2 separate regions of the Homo sapiens genome follow, and region 1 is linked to region 2. The links come from fine-mapping of genetic effects on gene expression. A gene starts in region 2. The other region holds a variant in brackets. All regions are shown on one strand. Distances are from middle to middle.

Region 1 (2,909 bases), 49 kb after region 2:
CTTGAACCTGGGAGGCAGAGGTTGCACTAAGCCCAGATTGTGCCACTGCACTCCAGCCTGGGCAACAGTGCGAGACCCTGTCTCAAACAAACAAATAAATAAATAAAATAGTAATAACTGCTGGACAATTTGTATTTTAAACTTGAGGCAGGATCTTATTCTGTTACCCAGGCAGGAGTCCAGTGGCACAATCAGGGCTCACTGCAGCAGCCTTGACCTCCCGGGCTCTAGTGATCCTCCTGACTCTTTTTTTTTTTGTAGAGACAAGGTCTCCCTATGTTGCCTATGCTGGTCTCAAACTCCTGGGCTCAAGTGATCTTCCCACCTTGGCCTCCCAAAGTGCTGGGATTATAGGTGTGAGCCACTGTGCCTAGCCTTAAACTTTCACAATGTTCATGACTTCTATGGGTAACACAGTCACGCAAAATTAGAATTTCAGGGTATTAACCCTTCTGAAGTTACAAAACAATATATATTGGTTTTTATACTCAACAAATAGTATGTGATTCAAACAGTAAAAAGTGAGACTAAAATGGCTTAAAATGATAAACGTTATTTTCAGCAGATTTAAAAAAATCTGTATATATTATTAAGTTATATATATTGATTTAAGCTGTCATAAATCTGTTACTGGTTGCTTCTGTTTATTTCTCTTCTAGACTAGTAACTCATGCTTCAAGTCAAATTCCTATGCAGAAGGGGTTAGGGACAAGTAAGAAAAGTTTCAAGTAGTTCTGAGTTACTGCATCTATATTCAGAACCTTGCATATAATTTTGCTAAGTCATGCCATTACATGACTATTACACCTCTGTCTTCTCCAATGACTGAGACTGTGTCTCATTCATCTTTATATTTTCTTGCACCCAACACAGTGCCTATGTACAGTTCTTATAATAAAACACGAGAAAAATTACATTTGCTTTAATAAAAACAACTATCCTTTTGATTTTAACAATCAAAAGGAGATTATTCAGTCTTTAGGAAGCTAAAACTCAAACTTACAGTTAAGATCTGTGTACTTGCCCTCCAAAGCTTGTACATATGCTTCATATTGTTTCCATCTAATAAAAAAAAATCCATACATTAGTTGTTACGATAAAATAGTTTATTAAATAAACTAGAAGATATCTATAAACTCACAGATTTTAGTAATACTGAGCATTCTTCTGGATTTTTCATTTTAAATCTAGTTTTTTTTAGACAGAGTCTCGCTCTGTCCCCCAGGCTGGAGTGCAGCGTGGCGCAAACAGGGTCTGGGCTCAAGCGATGTCCCTGCCTCAGCTTCCTGTATAGCTGGGACCAAAGGCACATGGCTCATTTTTTTGTAGAGATGGGGTCTCACTA[C/T]GTTGCCCAGGCTGGTCTTGAACTCCCGAGCTCAAATGATCCTCACACCCTGGCCTCCCAAACTGCTGAAATTACAGGCCTGAGTCACCACACCCAGCCTAAATCTAGTTTAACTGATCATAAAATAGTCCCTCATTATTCCTTCCCATTTTACAGGAAACAGGTAAAAAGAGATATATAGAGAAGGTTTTTTCTGCTGAGAACATGCCAAGCATGCCCTGGGTGAGATCAAACCCCAGATTCACTTTGATATCACTGATGTTCAGGATAATCCTGGATTATAGAAGCTGAAAAAAAAATCCCACTGCTGCTTTCATATGTTGTCCACTTAGAACAAAAGGCATATTAGAAATGTGCCTCATTATGTAGAATTGAAGGTTCTTTATCTTGGCTCTTTTGGGAAAATACCATGTGACTCTTCTCAAGGTAGTATCAATTTCTGCCTGTAAACACAGGGGGAGAATATAACATTTTTCAAGACTGTAATTTAACAATCACATCTAACTGTCAGAAACCTGCATAAATGCCATATGCTATCAGAATACAAGGGGACCGTTGTTCTTCATTATACTTCTCTACCCTGAATATATACACTGCTAGGTCCTCTTAGCAATAAAGATTTTTCCTAGTCTTATTAGGCAGTTCCTAATGGAAAGCACCCTGCCCTGAATGTCTGCTATCCTGCATACTTAAGAGCCATGTTTTCAAGCTGCTCTTCAGGTACAATTAATTAAAATTTGGCTTTAGAAAACCATTTTATAATCTTAAAAACAGGCTTGTCATGAGTTATTAATATTACAACATAATGAACAAAAAGGCTCGTGCCTGTAATCCCAGCACTTTGGGAGGCCGAGGCGGGCAGATCATGAGGTCAAGAAATCAAGACCATCCTGGCCAACACAGTGAAATCCCGTCTCTACTGAAAATACAAAAAAATTAGCAGGGCATGGTGGCGCATGCCCGTAGTCCCAGCTACTTGGGAGGCTGAGGCAGGAGAACCGCTTGACCGGGAGGCGGCGGTTGCAGTGAGCCGAGATCGCGCAACTGCATTCCAGCCTGGTGACAGAGCGAGACTCTGTCTTAAAAAAAAAAAAAAGAAAGAAAAAAGAAAAAAAAAAAACCTTCCTAATACCAAACTAATCCACTTTCTATGTAAACACTGATGTTCAGCCAAGGCCATGCTTTATTTTTACGGCACTTACAACCTAAGACACGTAGTTTACCAAATATTTGGGGATGTATAGAGAAAGATCTTCAGTGGAGGCTATAAAAGAACGATTTATTTTAGAAGTACAGAAAAATATAAAAACTGAAGCAAGAACATGTATATCACAAGGATAGAAGGCACAGACTAGTTAAATAAGTAGCAGCTGGTTTAAAATCTCCAAGGGAATCAAAGAGAAAAAACTCGCCTAAAAGTCTTACATGAATTCCCTAAGGAAAGATGTTAAACTGACCTCAAGGAAATACACTGCATATGATTTAGAAACCTTAAAGGTATCTTAAAATAAAACATTTCTATGATTCTTTATTAAGATTACTGATTTTTCCCCTCCTACAGTTA
Region 2 (2,909 bases):
TTGCTCTGTCGCCCAGGCGCTCAGCTCACTGCAACCTCCGCCTCCTGGGTTCAAGTGATTCTCGTGCCTCAGCCACTGGAGTAGCTGGGATTACAGGCGTGCACCACCACGCCCCTCTAATTTTTATATTTTTAGTAGAGACGGGGTTTCACCATGTTGGCCAGGTTGGTCTCAAACTCCTGACCTCAGATGATCCGGCTTCTTCGGCTGGCTCCCTAAAGTGCTGGGATTACAGGCATGAGACAATGCGCCCAGCCAGAATGATCTTGAAAAACCAATTCGGGCTCAAGCTTTAAATCCTCTCGTAGTTTCCCACTATAATGAAAAGAAAGTCTAAAGTGCTCATCTTGACTTACAAAGCTAATCATCTGTCGCCTCCTTACCCCTCCATGTTCATCTTGGGCCATTCATCCTCTGCCCATTGAGCTTCAGATCCACAAGCCCTTCAGTTCCTCACCCCAGCAGTTTCCTTTGCTAGGACTGCTCTTTCTGGCAGATGACTAGGCTTCTTCCTCTTTCAGATCTCACCTTCTTAAATGTCACCTCAGACAGGCAGGTATCCTGTCCGCTACTGTAACATCCTCTTTAAATAGCCCCCATCACACCTATTTGTTGTTTGTTCCAGCCCCTCCGCGAACCCTGCCTCTACCCGCCGCATGGCAGCTACCTGGGAGAGTGCCTGGAGTTGAATGAATGAAAATAGTCTGTAGGGTGCACTGCCCTTGTCAATCACAAGCAGATTTAATTACCTGTGCCAGAACTCACGGGAGGGAAACACCGTCCGCCAGCCCCGCTCTTTCCTGGCTACAGATAAAAGCTCCAGGTTCCGGGGGTTCCGGTTGGTGAATTCTGGGGCGACAGCTTCATTTTCCACAGGGTCCACTTCAGGTTTCGCTGCCGGCTCGGAGCTGGTTGACAGGGCTGCGAACCTGCACCCTGGGCAACGGGAAAAACCGCACAGGGCTTAAAAATGACGGATATGGACAGCGCACGAACCCGCTCTAACGTCTATCCGCTTTTACACCCCCAATCTTTAGGCCCGAGGGGACGAAAAATACGTATGCCCACAGGGTGGAGTCAGCACTGACCCCGTCCTTAACTTCCTACTGTGGTCTTCGCAGTGCCGCGAGCTCTATTTCGATCCGGCACGTCGAATACAAAATAGAACCCGCACGTTCCAATGTACTGTGCAAGCCCAGGCGAGTGAGCTGGGAGAAGGGGGGCAAGACTAATTACCAGGGTTCCTGCAAACCGAGAACAACCCCCAAAACCGCGACCGAAGCGCCATCGCTGAGACGATCTCGGAAAAGCCTCGCCTCTTTTTCCTCACGGACGACTCAGTCGCTCGCCAGGAGCAGCCATATAAAGTCAGGGACAAGCCTTTGGCTGCTGTAGATCCCCAAACTCTCCACGCCAGACGCCACCGACCCGGAAGTAGCAAGTCCCCTGCCACTGAGTGGCCGAGAAGGCGATCTGTTATCCTTCATCGCCAATCATCGCTCACGTCGAGGGGCACGCAGGCCCTGGAGCCCACCAACCACCTCGTAGCTACGCCCAAGACCACGCTTGTTGCTTAAGTCCGGGGTCAAAGGCACACACCCCACAAAACCATGTTTGGGTTTTCTACTCGGAGAGCTTGGGCGGTCATCGACTGGTCCACACACACCCCACCTGGGCACCGCGTAGGAATAAGGCAGGGCAAGATGCAGTTTTCTCCTTAAAAAGGGTGGTTGTCTTCCTCGAACCAAAAATTTTCCCGTATGGCCCGCTGGAAAAACTGCCCCGTCCCACCCAGGTTCGCGCCCTTAAACTTACACTCCTGAGGCCTGGAGCAAAGCCGGCCGATCTGCCTCACGCTCCCCGAGCAGGGACAAGGAAAAGACACTAAACCTAAAACGCACGACTCGCTCAGAACCCCAACTCTAACTTGGAGAAGGGCCCGCCCCTCCAGTTACACCCCAGCTCCAAGCTCCACCCTTCTTACAACCTTTTCTAGAAGGCACTAGAATGGCCCACTGCGTCTGCGCAACATCGTTTGAGGCGAAGGTTCAACCTCTTCCCAGCGGTCCAACATCCGACTTCCGTTCTCCGCTTTCGCGCCCTTCCCATCGGCTATCTAATTGGACAAAAATGCCGACCCCGCCCCTTCCCCGGAGCCTCACTTCCGTCACAGTCCTGTTTCTCTCCCTGTTGTCCCTGCCTCTTTTTCCTTCCCGCCGTGCCCCGCGGCCGGGCCGGGGCAGCCGGGAAGCGGGTGGGGTGGTGTGTTACCCAGTAGCTCCTGGGACATCGCTCGGGTACGCTCCACGCCGTCGCAGCCACTGCTGTGGTCGCCGGTCGGCCGAGGGGCCGCGATACTGGTTGCCCGCGGTGTAAGCAGAATTCGACGTGTATCGCTGCCGTCAAGATGGAGGGGCCTTTGTCCGTGTTCGGTGACCGCAGCACTGGGGAAACGATCCGCTCCCAAAACGGTAAGGGCGGGCCGGGCCTGGGTCGGGTTTGCGGCCGGGGAGGGCCGAGTCCCACCGCGACCGGACCCCGGCTGCCCTCGTTTCTCTCCTTTACCTCCGCAGAAAGGGCCTCGGGGCCCCGCAGCCGGACCCAGCCCACCCGCCGTTCTCTGGGGCAGGGCGCTGTGGCCCCACTTTTCCCACAGCGAGGAGGAGCCCCGCCGCGCGCGGCAGGGTTTTGAGACCGGCAACGCGTGGATGTGGTGTCCGGGGCGGCGTTGGAAACGCGCCCTCCGCGGGAAAGCGGGCCTCCCGGGCTCGCACGTGCGGGCCACGCCTCGCACCCCCTTTTGTTTCAGGGCGACCCCCTGAGTGTCCATGTTAAACGCCAGGTTTTATTTTAGGACCATTTACCAGAAAAAGAGTAGGTCCATCCGCGCGCCCTCGGATGAGCCCGGT

Evidence for each region. PIP is the estimated chance that this variant, and not a neighbour inherited with it, causes the effect.
Region 1: its variant is fine-mapped to the expression of MRPL18 in esophagus muscle (GTEx, PIP 0.90).

Annotation. Positions count from the first base shown.
Region 1 is chr6:159,740,241-159,743,149 of GRCh38, reverse strand. WTAP (WT1 associated protein) reads right to left here. Exons shown (of 8, transcript NM_001270531.2): 4 at 1,004-1,062. It also overlaps a transcript of SOD2 not described here. Among named protein-coding and RNA genes, the nearest start is that of WTAP, 14 kb to the right of the region's middle. The variant C/T (reference allele first, on the strand shown) is at 1,346.
Region 2 is chr6:159,788,967-159,791,875 of GRCh38, reverse strand. It overlaps MRPL18 (mitochondrial ribosomal protein L18), which reads right to left and starts at 1,409. Exons shown (of 4, transcript NM_014161.5): 1 at 1,237-1,409; 2 at 750-936. The coding sequence starts at 1,288. TCP1 (t-complex 1) reads left to right here and starts at 2,274. Exons shown (of 12, transcript NM_030752.3): 1 at 2,274-2,471. The coding sequence starts at 2,408. RefSeq lists enhancers at 1,222-1,281, 1,312-1,491, 1,748-2,411, 2,412-2,909.